Linked DNA regions of Homo sapiens: all the other regions are linked to region 1. Evidence: fine-mapped expression QTL. A gene starts in region 1. Each other region holds a variant in brackets. All regions are shown on one strand. Distances are between the middles of the regions.

Evidence for each region.
Region 2: its variant is fine-mapped to the expression of DNAAF8 in spleen (GTEx, PIP 0.98).
Region 3: its variant is fine-mapped to the expression of DNAAF8 in nasal epithelium (TOPMed, PIP above 0.99).

What each region holds. Positions count from the first base shown.
Region 1 is chr16:4,732,090-4,737,334 of GRCh38, forward strand. It overlaps DNAAF8 (dynein axonemal assembly factor 8), which reads left to right and starts at 2,448. Exons shown (of 10, transcript NM_139170.3): 1 at 2,448-2,609; 2 at 4,375-4,554. The coding sequence starts at 4,426. ANKS3 (ankyrin repeat and sterile alpha motif domain containing 3) reads right to left here and starts at 2,182. Exons shown (of 18, transcript NM_133450.4): 1 at 1,849-2,182. RefSeq lists silencers at 1,968-2,027, 2,078-2,307.
Region 2 is chr16:5,601,554-5,606,798 of GRCh38, forward strand. It overlaps LINC01570 (long intergenic non-protein coding RNA 1570), which reads right to left. Exons shown (of 3, transcript NR_110902.1): 3 at 1-111. It also overlaps a transcript of RBFOX1 not described here. Among named protein-coding and RNA genes, the nearest start is that of LINC01570, 12 kb to the right of the region's middle. The variant C/T (reference allele first, on the strand shown) is at 2,470.
Region 3 is chr16:4,758,959-4,764,203 of GRCh38, forward strand. ZNF500 (zinc finger protein 500) reads right to left here. Exons shown (of 6, transcript NM_021646.4): 3 at 3,615-3,798; 4 at 3,313-3,377; 5 at 1,534-1,630. Among named protein-coding and RNA genes, the nearest start is that of ZNF500, 5.6 kb to the right of the region's middle. The variant C/T (reference allele first, on the strand shown) is at 2,220.

The DNA.
Region 1 (5,245 bases):
GGAGACGAACACTTCACAGACCCTTGGTGAAGAGTGTGTGTAGGTGCGGTGGGGCAAGCAAAGCCCTCCTTCCTGGAGCCACCACCTCTTCAGCTAGCAGAGCCCAAGATCGTGCAGTGCCCTTCCCTCACTTTGCAGGTGAGAATCCCACCCTAACAGCCCTGGCCAACGAAGCCTGGATAAGAAACCAAACGAGCTGAGGGTCAGTTCAGAGTCCCTTCCATACCTCCCTCAAGCCTTCACTGGGCATGTCTCTTCCACGCCAAAGGCCTCCTGCAGGGTGAGGCCGTGTTCTCTATTTACTGGAGACTTGCATATCTGACATCCCCAGAGGTCTGAAGGACAATGAGAACCAGACCAAGCGTGACGGACCACTTGAGGCCAGGAGTTCGAGACCACCCTGGCCAAAATGGTGAACTCCCATCTTTACTAAAATTACAAAAATTAGCTGGGTGTGGTGGTGGGCGCCTGTAGTCTCAGTACTCAGGAGGCTGAGGCAAGAGAATCGCTTGAGCCTGGGAGGCGATTGCAGTGAGCCGAGCTCAAGCCACTGCACTCCAGCCTGGGCAACAGAGCGAAATTCTGTCTCAAAAAAAAAAACAAAAAAAAAACACTAAAGTGAAAACTAAAATGTCCCATCCCGAGTGGTGTGGTGTAAAGTAGCATTAGAGATAAGACGTTTTAGTTTTCATTCAACTTTTTGGTTCTGTCCATTCTGAAAATGCTAAGTATCTGTTACCTTTACAGTGAATCCTAAAGAAAATGTGGTACTTAGACACAATGGAGTACTATTCAGCCATAAAAAAAGAATGAGATCCTATCATTTGCAAAAACATGGATGGAAGCGGAGATCGTTATGTTTAGTGAAATAAGCCAGGCACAGAAAGATAAATATTGCATGTTCTCAATTATTTGTGGTTATCTAAAAATCAAAACAACTGAACTCATGGACATAGAAAGTAGAAGGATGGTTACTTCTAGTGTAACCAAGGCTGGGAAGGGTAGTGGAGGGTGGGGATGCTTAATGGATACAAAAAAAACAGAATGAATAAGATCTAGTATTTGATCAAGCCACTGCACTCCAGCCTGGGCGACAAAGCGAGACTCCGTCTCAAAAAAAAAAAAAAAAAAAAAAAGATCTAGTATTTGACCGCACAACAGGGTGACTATAGTCAATATAATCTAATTGCACATTTTATTTATTTATTATTATTTTTTTTGAGACATAATCTCACTCTGTTACCCAGGCTAGAGTGCAGCGGCGTGATCTCGGCTCAATGCAACCTCCGCCTCCTGGGTTCAAGCGATTCTCCTGCCTCAGCTTCCCGAGTAGCTGAGATTACAGGTATGAGCCACCATGCCAGCCTAGTTTTCGTATGTTTAGTAGAGACGAAGTGTCCCCATGTTGGCCAGGCTGGTCTCAAATCCTTGACTTCAGGTGATCCGCCCGCCTTTGCCTCCCAAAGTGCTAGGATTACAGGCGTGAGTGAGCCACCGCGCCCGGCTGCACATTTAAAAATAATTCAAAGAGTATAATCATATTGTTTGTAACACAAAGGATAAATGCTTGAAGGGATGGAGACCCCCATTTTACATGTGATTATTACGAACTGCATGCCTGTATCAAAATCTCTCATATACGCCATAAATATATACACCTACTACGTACCCACAAAAATTAAAAAATTTTTAAAAATCTTAACAAATGTGATGCTGGTGGTAACTGTCACGCCCACAGAGGAGGTCTGTGAAAGCACCCAGGCACCCCCTCTCGCCCCGTGGAACCGCATCGCAAAGGTAGCTCACTGGCCCCGGGGCGGGTCCCTGGCCGACAAACCCGTAACTCACAGCAGTGACGCTTCCCGACGCCCCCCGGCCACATCCCCACAGGAACGCTACGGCGCACAGGGCATTACTGTGCCCCCACCACAACCACATAAAGAAAATGTGGGGGCTCGGTCCTCCAGTCACGCGGCGAGCAAGTGCAGCGCGGGACGCCCGAGCGCCGGGTCTAGGCGGGCTGCAGGTGCCGGCAAGTGCTGGGGCCGGGCCGCCGCGGAACCCACCTGTGCTGGGCCTCAGGCCTTGCGCCGCCCTCGGGCTGCCGTCGCCAACCCCCCCCAAACAGCTCGCCGCCACGCTCCCTCGCCGGGGCACCGCCCCCGGCACCCGCCCCGGAAGTAGTTGCGGGAGGGCGCGGAGCACGCCGGGAAGCTCGCGGGTCGGCACCGGGACAGCTCCCGGGCGCCGTGGAATGCACACGTCCCGCACCCGGACCTTCCGGTCAGCTTCCCGGCTCGCTGTCTGATGCCCGCGGTAGCCAATGAGCTAGTGGTGTTTGTCCTGCTCCGTCCCCGCCCTCCAGGGGAACCAATCCCATTGCAGGAGAGGCAGGACGCGCAAAGGCCCGAAAGAGGAGCTGGGCGGGGTGGGGGGAAGGCGGAGGCAGTCTAGTAATGTAAAGCTCCGCTGAGAGGGAGAGTGCTGAAGAAGGGGACAGCCTCTGTACCTGCGGCGCGGCCCGAGGGGCGGACGCGAGCGGAGTGACGCGCTGGAGGCTGTTTATAGCGCTGTCAGGACAGCGCGGGGAGTGGAGGCAGAGGCCTGAGGTGAGGGGCCTCGGGCCTGCTGCGCCTGCAGGGAGTTGAACAAAACGCGGGGAAATACGGGCTGGGGGTGGGTGAGAGGAGGAGCGATGGGCTTTCCACTTCCACAGCTTTAAAATTTAAAAGCTCGACCCGGGAGGCTGTTGGCGTCTGGTTGCCATAACAACCGGCAGCCTCGTGGCAGGCCGGCTGGGGGCGGGGCTCTGAGAACCGGGGCGGGGCTGTGGCGGGGCTAACAGGCTGCAGCTGAGAAACCCACCCCGAGACGGAGCCGGAAGGCCGTTATTCAGAGGCGGCTCCGAGCCTCCCCTTCGCCTTCTGGATGCTCTGAGCTCCTCAACTTGGCGTTCAGGGCCCTGCATTGTCTGGTCCGTTTTCACCGGAGAGTCCAGCAACTGACACTTTCTTCCCTTAAACCTGTTGGGCGGTTCATTCCTTTGAGCTACTGTACATGCTCTTCCTTCTGCCGGTAATGCCGTTCCCTCCCCTATTGTCTTGTCCGCCTGAAGGGTTTATCAGAGTCTCTGGAGGCCCTCTTCATCCCGACGATTCTGTTGCCCTAAGAAATACTGTGCCCTGAATTGCGGAACAGAGCTCTAGTTACAAAAAACACCCGCTGGCTGTGTGCACCAGATGCGTCCCCAACCCGCTGCTCCCAGTTCAGAGTGCACCAAGCACCTGCCCTATTCCCAGAAGTACAGAGGAAGCAAGCAGCCCCCAATTCACATCTCCTGCCGCTGCCCTGATTGGGGATGAACGGGCACTGACTGCAGGGCCAAAGCCACAGCGGCCTCTCGAGCTGCAGAGTTCTCCTGACACTGGCTCTAGAGGACCCTCACCCCCCAGCTCTCAAGCTCAAGCTCCCCAGCCCCCTGAATAACAGGACCATCTCCTTTAAGACTCTAAGATATAAATGCAGGGGCTGGTCAGAGTAGTGACTCCAAAAAAAAAAAAAAATCACTTAGTGACTCCAAACTGTCAGCCAGGCGCGATGGCACATGCCTGTAATCCCAGCACTTTGGGAGGCTGAGGCAAGAGGATCACTTGAGGCCAGGAGTTTGAGACCAGCCTGGGCAACAGGGAGACTCCATCTCTACAAAAAATAAAAATGTTAGCCAGATGTGGTGGTACACACCTGTAGTCCCAGTTATTCAGGAGGCTGAGGTGGGAGGATCACTTGAGCTCAGGAGGCCGAGGCTTCAGTGAGCTATCATTGTACCACTGCACTCTAGCCTGGGCGACAAAGCCAGACCCTGTCTCCAAAACAAAAAAGCAAGGTGTCTTCTGTTCCTTGGTAAAGGGCAGTAAAGGGTAGTAGGACTTGAAATTCCCCCTGATTCAGAGTCCACTGTTGCTATTTACTAAACACCCTGAGCCTATGAAATGAAGAGAATAGTTATGCTATATGGGGTATATATAAAATATACCTATATATCATTATATATCGTACATATGGCATTCTATATAACATGTACATATATCTACATAGGTATATTTATATCAATACATATATTTGTATATTATTATGTATATATCACTATATACATTATATACCTGCAGGCTCCACATGTGTGCATGAGTGGGAACACACACACACACGTACACACACAGTGCCTGGCACTAACAGGAGCTTGCATAACTAGAAGGAAACTGAGGCAGGTGGTGAGGCCTGCCAGCCTGTTTGGTCTCCTACAGCTGGTAGAGCAGCCCCTGCTCTCCTGACCTTCAGTGGCCCGGACCCTCTTCCATCACCCTGTGTACCCCACAGAGCTCCCCGGATTATGGTGCACTGAGAAGGCATCTGGAAGCCTGGGCCCTCATGGCATCCAACGATAAAGGCATGGCACCCTCGCTGGGCTCTCCCTGGGCCTCCCAGATGGGGCCCTGGGATGCCATCCTCAAGGCTGTCAAAGACCAGCTCCCGTCTCTGGACTCAGACTCCCCTTTGGTAAGCAAGAACTCTCTCCCTGGATGCCTTGTCCTTCCTACCAGAGCAGGCATGACGCTGGCCAGGACAGCTTTGGAGCACTTCTCTGAAGACTTTTCCTGCTGACCTGTGCAGTTTGTTGTCATTTTACTTTAAATCGCATGGCCAGACTCAAAGTTGTGTTTTCTGGGTGCCTATTTCCTTCTTTACTCTTTCTTCTGCCTTGATTGTCATCTCTGAGCATGGGTATTGGTGCTCAGCATCTTGGGAGACCCTTTCAGTGGAGTTTTTGGTGCTGACTTGGAACCCAGGTCAATTTGATGCAGAAGCTCTGTCCTTTCCATTCTGCTATTCTCCACTCTCTCGTGCCAGGACAGGGCCAGAACACCCACTGAGAATGCACAATTCCAGTGCATTGTGATAAGCCTTCGAGGGATTCTGCATTTGTGGTTTGGGGTCCCTGAAATGGCTCTCAAAGACGCTCAGACCAATAGCCCTAGGTGCAGGCATAAGACCCTGCTAAAGATGCTCCTGGCGGGGGCTGCTCAGTGCACAGGTTGGCACTGGGCGTTAAGAGACAGTATGAGGGTTTTAAAAGGAACGGGCAGGGTTTGGGTCCTACCTGGGCACCAGCAACAGAGCTTCAGGGACCTCAGACGTCATCCAGTGCATGACGAGGCTAAGGAGAACCTAAGGGGACCCCACGCCTCAG
Region 2 (5,245 bases), 870 kb after region 1:
TGGAGGAGGGATCATGCGGCCATCTTGGAGTTTGGCTACCACACTCTTCATAATCTTGAAATAACTATGTCTTGCAGTTCCACCCAGGATGCTTGTAATGTCACACTGAGTCTATGGAAAGAAAACAAAGATACTAAACACATTTTGCAGATGGGGAAATGAGGCGTGGAGCAGGAAAGTGACTTACTAAAGAGCCTTGATATTGGTGGCACAGAAGCTTTTGAAGGGAAAGTAGTTGAAAAAGTTAATTGCCCACAATAGGATCAAAGGTGTCTGAGATGGCTCCATTTCCCCAGTGCTTAGAATAGTGCCTATGCCTGCTAGATTTTTAGCTCTCTTGGGTTGGGTCAGGTATTTCCTGGCCCCCAACCTCACTCATGGAGGCTGATGTGTTCTCTCTAGTGGAAGGGATGATGGTATCCTGCTGGTTTCTCCTCTGGAGGCTGTAGAGTCTTCTAGGTTTGCAGAGATTCAGGCTGTGAGGATCCAGTTGCCTTAACCTGCTCCTCCATCTCCACCCTCTGACTGTAGCAGGGCTGCTGAGCTGGGTCCTTCTGGCTGGACTCTCACAGGTCAGCTTCCTGTCTTGCCTTGGAATGTGTCATGGGTAGAAGCAGTCATTTTGACGACCTCTACTGGAGGCAGCATATGTTGGCCTGACCATCTCTGGATGGCAGATTGCCTCACATTCACATGTGTCAAAATGTAAAATGTGTTCCATCTTTGGTCTAGCAATTACACTTCTGGGAATTTGCACCTTGGAGATGATTGTACAAGTGTGAGATGTGTTTGTATATTTATTAAGGAAATGATTGTAGTAGCACAAATAATTTTTAAAAAGATGTACCCTCAATATCCCTCAGTAAGGGATAGTTTAAGTCAATTGTGTATATCCATAAAGTCCAATTCCAAGCTGCTGCTAGGATTTTGTGGTGAGGATTTATGTTTATTGACTTGGAAAGATGCACATGACATACTGTTGAGTGAGAAATACAGCCTGTATTATATGATTCCAATTGTGTGCAAACTGTATTCATAGATCTCCCTTTCTCTGAGTGCAGAGAGATGTCAGAAAGGCAGATGGAAAGTTCAACTAAATTACTGGTTTTTGCATTTTCCTTTAGACCCTTTTATTTTTTTTCTATAGTGAGCAGTTATTTTCTTTGACAGTGGTAGTAATAATATAATATTAGTAATAATGTAGTTGTAATAAATGTAATATAGTAAGAAGCAGTAGTAGTAATAGTAGTAATAATGTAGTTGTAATAATAGTACTAATACTAGTAATAGTAATAACTATTTATGAAATTAAGCAGTGTGTTCTGGACTGTTAAGAAGGTTTTCCAGGAGAGCTGACGGCATATTCGTTCAAGTTTCATTCTCAGTTGTCATGGAAATGCTGTGTCGTTCCTCTAGAGGAGTGAAAATGGGGTTTACAAGACTAAATGTGGCCTTTAGATAGACTTTTTGGTCCTTGCCTGCTCCAGAATGCAGAACACTCCAGGCCATGGCATCTCACCGCCCTTCCTACTCACTGCCCTGTGGCACCAGTCAGCTCTACTTTTTCTGACCTCCACCTGTCTGCTTTGGCACTGTCTCCCAGAAAGGGCTTTCCCTGGATGCAGAAAGTATATTTTGCCAGCATTCAGAATAAAATAATCATAACAGCTAGCATCTTTGGGAACTAGGAAGTACCTGGCATTGCACCCACCATTTCACAGGCATTGTATCTTTCTCTACCCAGAGTAGTCCAAGGAGGGAAGACCTATTCAAACTATTTGTTTACAAATGGGGAAACTGAGGCTCAGAAGGGCATGGCTTGCACAGTCTCATAGCTAATGGGGAAGCAGTCTGAAATTCAGACCCAGATTGGGCTGTTTCCCATGCTGCATTGAGCTGAGGGGAAGGCCAGCAGGTTCTTTTTGGTGATGCAGGGAGCATTTCTGGGAACCTGTGTCTTAGATGCAAAGTTAATTCCAGAGTCATCAGGTAACATAAAAATTACACCTGGTCAATTACTTGTGCAAGTCCTGTTGGAGACCAATCTTTCTGCCCCTCGATACATCAAATACAGCCACACTTTCCTTGATTATTAGAAAAAATGAGGGTCTTTGCTTAGATGCCAGATGAAGTGATTGTGTTGAGGTGGCATGGTGGATGAATGAAACATACCTGTCTTTAAACATTGCAGTCATCTGTGATCATGTGGCCACAAGATGGAGAGGCACTTGGGAATGAGACTGAGAAACTTGCAGGTACATGTTTCCTTTTGGGTTCACTCTGGAGCAAATGCATCCTGAACTCGTGGAAGTGATGCTGTCCAGCGTAAGAACCGCACTATTATTTTTTCTCTCTTTCTTGATATAGTAGAAACTATACCCTCCTATACCCAAGGCAGACATTACTAAGCAATGGTGTCATTCTCCCCTCCTATACCCAAGGCAGACATTAGTAATCAATGGTGCCATT[C/T]CCCCCTTCTATACTCCAGGCAGACATTACTAATCAATGGTGTCACTCTCCCCTTCTATAGCCAAGGCAGTAAGCATAGTGCAGTTAAGTGGAAGAACCCAAATTTTTACTTTGTTCTGCCTCATTCCAGAGCCATATTTCAAAACCCCTGTATTTTTCTGTAATAAGAATACAAAAAATTCATTTTTTATGCGTGCTTAAGAGACTAAGTGGCTTCAAACAACACCTGTCTACCATCTTATTGCTTCGATTGGTCATAGGTCTGGACACAGCTGAACTGGGTTCTCTGCTTAGGTTCTCACCAAGCTGCAGGCAAGGGAGTTGGCAGGAGCTGGGAGTTTCATCTGGAGCTCAGGGTCCCTTTGCAATCTCACTGGTTGTTGGAATAATTCAATTTCTTGTGGCTGTAAGATGCAGGCCCTCAGACCCTAGAGGCCACCTACGGTTCCCTGCCACATGGCCCTCTCCACAGGCAGTTTACAATGTGACAGTGTGCTTTTCCCGGGAGTGTCTCTCTAGTGCATGTTAGCAACATGGAGTCTTGTGTACACATGTCCCAACATAATCATGGCATGCCCATCATCTTTTCTATTGGTTAGAAGTAACTCGTGGGTCCTGCCTACATGCTACTGATCATGGGGCCGCACTGAGGTCTGTCCATGCTGATACAGTCCCGAGATGAGTCTGGATTTCTCCTCTTCTTGGGGCCAAGTGTGCTGCTATTTCTCTCCAGCATTTTCCCTTTTTCTTGCAGAAAAGGGGCTCATGGGCCCCCCGGGAACCAGACCACTTCAGTGTTTGACCCTCCAGACTTCCTTATCCCCTAGTCATCTGGACGTCTTAACTTCCTGCCCATGTCACCTCTGTAGGACGTCCCCTGCTGCAGTCTCAGCAAATGAATATTTGATGGAATGCTGCCACCTTTTGGAATTTAGCAAAAGTGATCTGTGTTGTTCAGAGGGATGGAAGTGAAACTCCTGTTCCCTTCTCTACAGCCCGCGCACACACACCCACTCACCCGGCCTTCATTTCCGCTGAGCATTGACTCAGGTTTGACGCCAGTTTGAGGCAGGTTTGCTTGTCCTTTCTGCTCTGGCTTCTAGTTGCTGTGAGTGGTGACAGGCTTGTTCCCTGTTTTACCCTCCAAGGTGCAGCAGAATGTTGAAGAAAGAGATGGGGCAGATTGGACTGGATTTCATCTCTGATTCCACCACCAACTCTCCAAGGACTTTGGCTTCCGTGTCTGTGAAATGAGGGTTTCTCAGGCTCTTTCTGCTCTCACGTCCCTGATCCCAGGTTATGATGCCTGTAACCATGTATGGAGAGTAGGTAACACCTCATTTATAGACGGCAGTCAGATGGGAGTGGAGGTTAGACCCAGTCCCAGGTCAAGGATGCCAAGGCTATATCTGTACTCAGTAGGGAAGAGTGGTGCCATTGATGAGTAATAGGAGGGGACAGTGGTGCCACTGATGATTAATGATTAATGTCTGCCTTTGGTATAGGAGGGCAGAGTGGTGCCATTGATTAGTAATGTCTGCCATGGGTCTGGGAGGGGAGAGTGGTGCCACTGATGAGTAATGTCTGCCTTGGGTCTAGGAGGGGAGAGTGGTGCCATTGATGAGTAAGTCTGCCTTGAGTCTAGGAGGGGAGAGTGTTGTCCTTGATGAGTAATGTCTACCTCAGGTCTAGGAGGGGAGAGTAGGGCCATTAATTTAATAATGTCTGCCTTGGGTACAGGAATGGAGAGTGGCACCATTGATTAGTAATGTCTTCCTTGGTATAGGCGAGAAGAATGGTACTCTTGAATGGTAATGTCTGCCTTGAGAACAGGAGGGGAGAGTGCCAACACAGATGCTGTCCCAACTCCAGGTGTCTCATAGAGACTTGTAGCAGCCATCATGGAACCCATAAGCTGGCCCACCTTTCCCATTGCTTCTCTTTCTGTATATTCACAGGCATAGCTTTCCTCCCTCTTCCCTGGCATCCTTGGCATTTTCCTGTCTTACTCTCAATCTGAAGTTAGCAGAGGTTGCCCGTGGCATGTCTCTAGTTGACCCACTGTCTGATCAGTTCACTTGCTGAACCATGGCTCCTCCTTTCTGACATATTTCAGCAGCTCTCTGTGATGTGAGAGTAGAGAGCAAGGTCCTGTGATTTCATACTTGGCATTGGGATACTATCTGGTGGCTTCTCCAACCTTATCTGCTACTCTCCTCCCACCCTGTCCTCCAGTGTCCATGCCCCATGTTCCCTGACTGCAGACCTTTGCTTAGGCTATCCTTTCTGCTTGAATTCTCCCCTCAGATCTGACCATCCAAATTCCTAACCATTCATCCATAGTCATCAGAAAAGCCTTGTTCAGAGATTCTTCCTAAGTCACTCTGGTTGTGTTGCTCTCCAACCACAAAATGCCCTCCACCCTCATTCCTCCCTCCCTTCCTTCCTCACCTTCTCTCTCACTCACCTCCTCTCTCCCTCACTTCTCATCTCTTCCTCATTCCACCCCCAACTCCCTAAATTATATCACAGTCACTGCTAAGAGTTGGAAGGTATGCATATGAATAAGACTCAAACCGTGCCCTCAAAGCGCTTGCAGTCTGTGAGGAGGACACAGGATGAATAAGAAGTAGCCCATAACTGAGGCACAATCTGATTGCTTTGTAGTGTAGGAAGAATATAAAGTTGAGTGGTAGTGCAAACAGGTAGGGAAGGCTTCACAGAGGAGGTGATACATAGAGTCTTGAAGGACAAGTGGGAGTCGTAACACTGATTG
Region 3 (5,245 bases), 27 kb after region 1:
CAGCACTTAGGGAGGCTGAGGCAGGCAGATCACTTGAGATCAGGAATTCGAGACCAGCTTGGCCAACATGGCAAAACCCAGCTCTACTAAAAATAGAAAAATTAGCCGGGTATGGTGGCACACACCTGTAATCCCAGCTACTTTGGGAGGCTGAGGCAGGAGAATCGCTTGAACCTGGAAGGCGGAGGTTGCAGTGAGCTGAGCTGAGATCGTGCCACTCCACTCCAGCCTGGGCAACAGAGCAAGACTTCATCTCAAAAAAAAAAAAAAACCCTGAAAATAACAACCATTGGTATGGATGTGGAGAAACTGGAACCCTTGTGCACTCTTGCTGGGTGCATGAGATGGTGCAGATGCTGTGGAAAACAGCATGGCGGCTCCTCAAAAAATTCAACACAGAATGACCACATATGCTCCAGCCATCCCACTGCTGGATACATCCACCCAGGAACGGAAAGCAGAGTTGATCAGAGATACACTTGTACACCCACGTTCACTGCAGCATTATTTACAATGGAATATTCTTCAGCCTTAAAAAGGAAAAAAATTCTGGAGGTTTCCCAAAGAAGGAAGTCTGCCTCAAGACCGTGGCACAGAAATCCTAAGCTTCCAGTCTGCTGGCCTGGCCTGCAGATTTCAGACTTGTCAACTTCTGTAAGCAACCAAGGGAGCTGTCTAAGTACCCATTCCTTAAAATAAATCTGTGTGTGTGTGTATCTTCTGTTGGTTCTGTTTCTCTGGAGAAGAACCCTAATACAAAGCGATATCTCACTGTCATTAGAAAAGGCTTCAGCATGGCCACGCACGGTGGCTCACACCTGTCATCCCAGCACTTTGGGAGGCCTAGGCCAGCGGATCACCTGAAGTCAGGACTTCGAGACCAGCCTGGCCAACATGGTGATGAAACCCATCTCTACTAATAAAACAAAAATTAGCCAGGCATGATGGCGAGTACCTGTAATCCCAGCTACTTGGGAGGCTGAGGTGGGAGCATCGCTTGAACCCAGGAGGTGGAGGTTGCAGTGAGCCAAGGTTGTGCCACTGCACTCCAGCCTGGGCAACAGAGCAAAAATCCATCTCAAAACAAACAAGCAAACAAAAAACCAGAAAAGGCTTCAGCAGCATCAGGAAAGGCAGGAAGAGACAAACGGACAGAGAAAGAGCTTAGGGGACGGTGCTGGGTAACAGGCAGGGCAGTGCTCAGTGTGATGGGGAGAGGCTGGAGAACCAGGTCCTGTGGGAGCAGCTCTGCCCTTGAGAGGAGGGCACAGGGAAGCTGAAGTGAAGTAGGACCAGCATGTAGGGGGCAGAGGCAGAAGAACAGGATGGCAAGGCAGTGCTGGGCATCTGCCTGAGTCACGGCCGAGTGGCTGTGCAGGCCCTGCAGGTGGGACTCTGCAGGGATACGGGTAGCCCTGTCCACGGAGGATCGCCCCAGGCCAACTGGACCAACAGAACCAAGCCCCGGAGCTGGTGCCTGACAGTTCCTATTTTTGGCAAGCCCCCTAGAGGACACAATCACTTGCAAGTTACCTTCATTCTCCAGCGGCGCGTCCCGCTGAGCTGGGTCCATGCATCTTGGCTCCTCCCCAGAAAGGTATACAGCCACGTCCTCCAAGTTCACGGGCACCTGCCAGAACGCACCCCACTCAGTCCTGGCCCCAAGCAAGCTGCCTCCTCCCCAACTAAGGCCACTGGCCCAGGGAGCTGCACCGCCACTGCCCCTCGAGGCTGGCGCCAAGCCTGGTGGTGCAGCTGGTCTTCTCCACTCTCGTTGCAGTGGTGAGTCCTGGTGTCTCCGCCCACTGCTCCCATGTGCCACTGCTGCAGAGCTGGGACACCACCGGAGAAGGGACAGATTCGCCACGAGGAGTGGTGGACCCACTGCACACTCAGCCACCGAGGCCCATGCTCCACAGGGAGACAAGAGCATCCCCTGGCTCCGTGGCTAGCCAGCCCCAGGACCCCATTGCGGCAGACGGGGGACTTCAGGATGCCTCTGGGCCAGTGGCTCCCAGATGTAGCACCAGATTGACCCGGAAGCATGATTAAAAAAACAAGCAAACTCTTTCCAGAACAGGCAAATTCACAGAGACAAGAAGGAGCTTTGTGGTTGCCAGAGGCTGAGGGAAAAACAGGTAGAGACTCTGGTAATGAGTCTAGGGGGTTTTCGGGGAGGGTCTAAAGGAAATGTTCGGCCGGGCGCGGTGGCTCACACC[C/T]GTAATCCCAGCACATTGGGAGGCCAAGGCAGGTGGATCATCTGAGGTCAGGAGCTCCAGACCAGCCTGGCCAACATGGTGAAACCCCATCTGTACTAAAAATACAAAAAAAATTAGCCAGGCATGGTGGTGGGTGCCTGTAATCCCAGCTACTCAGGAGGCTGACGCAGGAAAATCGCTTGAACCCGGGAGCCGGAGGTTGCAGTGAGCCGAGATCGCACCATTGCACTCCAGCCTGGGCAACAAGAGCAAAACTCTGTCTCAAAAAAACAAAAACAAAACAAAACAAATACACATACATACACACACACACACACACACACACACACACACACACACACACACACACATATAAAAATTATAAATAAATAAATAAAAATAAAACAGGCCAGGCATGGTGGCTTATGCCTGTAATCCCAGTGCTTTGGGAGACTTAGGCAAGAGGATCACTTGAGCCCAGGAGTTCAAGACCAGCCTAGGCAGCACAGCGAGACTGTGTCCCATTAAAAAAAAAACAAAAAAAAAACAACTAGCCGGGTGTGGTGGTGCATGCCTGTAGTCCCAACTAACTGAGGAGGCTGAGGCAGGAGGATCCCTTGAGCCTGGGAGGTCAAGGCTGCAGTGAGCTGTAATCACACTACTGCACTCCAGCGTGAGCACAGAGCCAGACTTTGGCTCAAAACAAACAAACAAACAAACAAACAAACAAAAACCCCAAAAAAACCAGCAAGCAAACAAAGGAGACTCCCATTCCAGCCCAGCGGTGTGGGAGGAAGCTGTGTTTTCCCCCAGAGTCCCAAGAGATTCCTGTGCCCAGCAGAGTAGGAGTCACCACCCTGTCTCACTGGTGGACCGCAGAATCTTCCGGGCACAGCCGAGTACTTAAATGGCCTCTGGAGAGAAGAAAAGACTTCCCAGGAGGCCAGGGGAAGTGACTCCAGGGTTGGGGCAAAGGGAGAAAACTCCAGGGAAGAGCTCCTCTGACATCCAAAACCTTGGCCCCCAGGAGAGGTGTCCCCTTAACAAGGAAGTGTGACACACAGGAGGTCGGGCCAGACCCCAGGATGCTGCAGACCAGGAGCATCCCACTCACCTGGGACCAGGCCGAAAGGAAGGGCGAGGCTGACGCCATCTCCTGATGCCGGGGAGCTGGAGGGCCTGGGAAGGAGCAGAGTCACCACCAGTCACACAGCTCACCCAGTACTGCCCCTGCCGTCCCCTGCACACCAAGGCCCCAACAGCCCGGCGGCTGCCCACCCAAGATCCACTCCTTGCTGGAGAGCCTGTGCACCCTGCATCCAGGCAGGCCTCTGCCCTGGCCACAGTCCACACCCCAGTCACCTTCACCTCCCTCCCCTGCACCACTTCTCATTCCTCCAAAGGGGTGCTACTCACCTCTCTCTGGCCACAACAGCGGGCCCCTCTGTGGCCTGTGGCTCAGCTGGGCTGGGGGCTGCTGGCTGGAGAATCGAGCCTCTTCCTCCAGGGACAGATCCTCTGGCTGAGCCTCTGCCTGGTGTTTTAAGAACTGTCCCCCTATCCCGAGGGGCACCTCGTCATCAGAAAGCAGCTCTGAGCCCTGCACACAGACAGTGATCTCCCCACCAGCTCCCAGAAGGCCAGAAGGAAAAATCCCCGCAGGGCCCCACACCCCTCATCTCAGGCACCCCAGCCGGCTGCCCACCCCCGGGCTGTCTGCAGCCTCCCTCCCTCTGCCCAGCCGTGTGGCAGTGTTCCCTGCAGCCAGCTCCCAGCCTGCTCTACTCCATGGTCTCTCCCTGTCACCACAATCGTTTCCCCATCACATTCTTACCCTCTATTCCTTGGTCCTCCTGATAGACCCTGGGATAGACCCTGGGCCAGAAGAGCCCTGAGTCAGCGCTGGACTAATTTCAGAAGTTCACAGAACTGCATTTGCTAGATTTTTTGAAATTATCTGGCCAGCTGCAATGGCTCACACCTGTAATTCCAGCACTTTGGGAGGCCGAGGTGGGTGGATCACCTGAGGCCAGGAGTTCGAGACCAGCCTAACCAACATGGTGAAACCCCATCTCTACTAAAAATACAAAAATTAGCCAGGCATGGTGGCAGCACGCTTGTAATCCCAGGTACTTGGGAGGCTGAGGCAGGAGAATCGCTTGAACTCGGGAAGTACAGGTTGCAGTGAGCCGAGATCGTGCCACTGCACTCCAGCCTGGGCAAAAGAGCGAGACTCCATCTCAGGGAAGAAAAAAAAAAAAAGAAAAAAAAAAGAAATTATCAACAGGTGCTCTGAGATGATCTATTTCCTAATTCCAGGAAAGGTGAGTTGAATGAAATTGGGTCTTAGAATTGAGCTCTGCAATAGCACTTGGACAAGAGACATCCCTAGGCAACTACAAACCCAGCGTCAGGGACCCATCTCAGGCTTCCTCTTATTCAACATTCCACACCTCTAAGGGAGCGTAGTCCCCTTGGGGAGCACAGCCTGCCCCTCTCAGCTCAGTGATGGCCATGAGGCATGTGTGCAGAGGTGTCGGTGCAGTGACAGAAGGAAGCCATGCCGGGAACCCCAAACACTGAAGCTGTGGTGGCCAGGAAAGAGGCTGGCCGGCTGGGAAGAAACCCCGATTTCTTGGCCACCCCGATGGCAGGATTTTCTGACTGCGGTCAGCTCACGCCGTGGTCAAGCATTAGGGGATGTGCCTCCTCTGTTGGCTGCAAAAGGCCAGCAGTGTGCAGCCAGCAGCACTGCCACAGGAAGAAAGGCAGCTGGTCAGCACTGCCCATGTGCCCCATCCACGCAAGGCCCTGAAAAATGAACTGAAACAGCAGGTGGCAGGACTTCTTTCTAATCTCAAGGAGTTCCACAACTGAAACTGAAGCAGCAGGAATGAGTAAGAGGCTTCCTCTACTCCTTCAAATGGGGCTGGAAGGAGGTGGAGAGGCACTGTCTATAGAGATTTCGGTGTGTCAGAAGGGTCCTGTCTGTGCCATCCAGTACAGTAGCCACTGGCCATGTGTGACGACTGAGCCCTTGAGAGGTG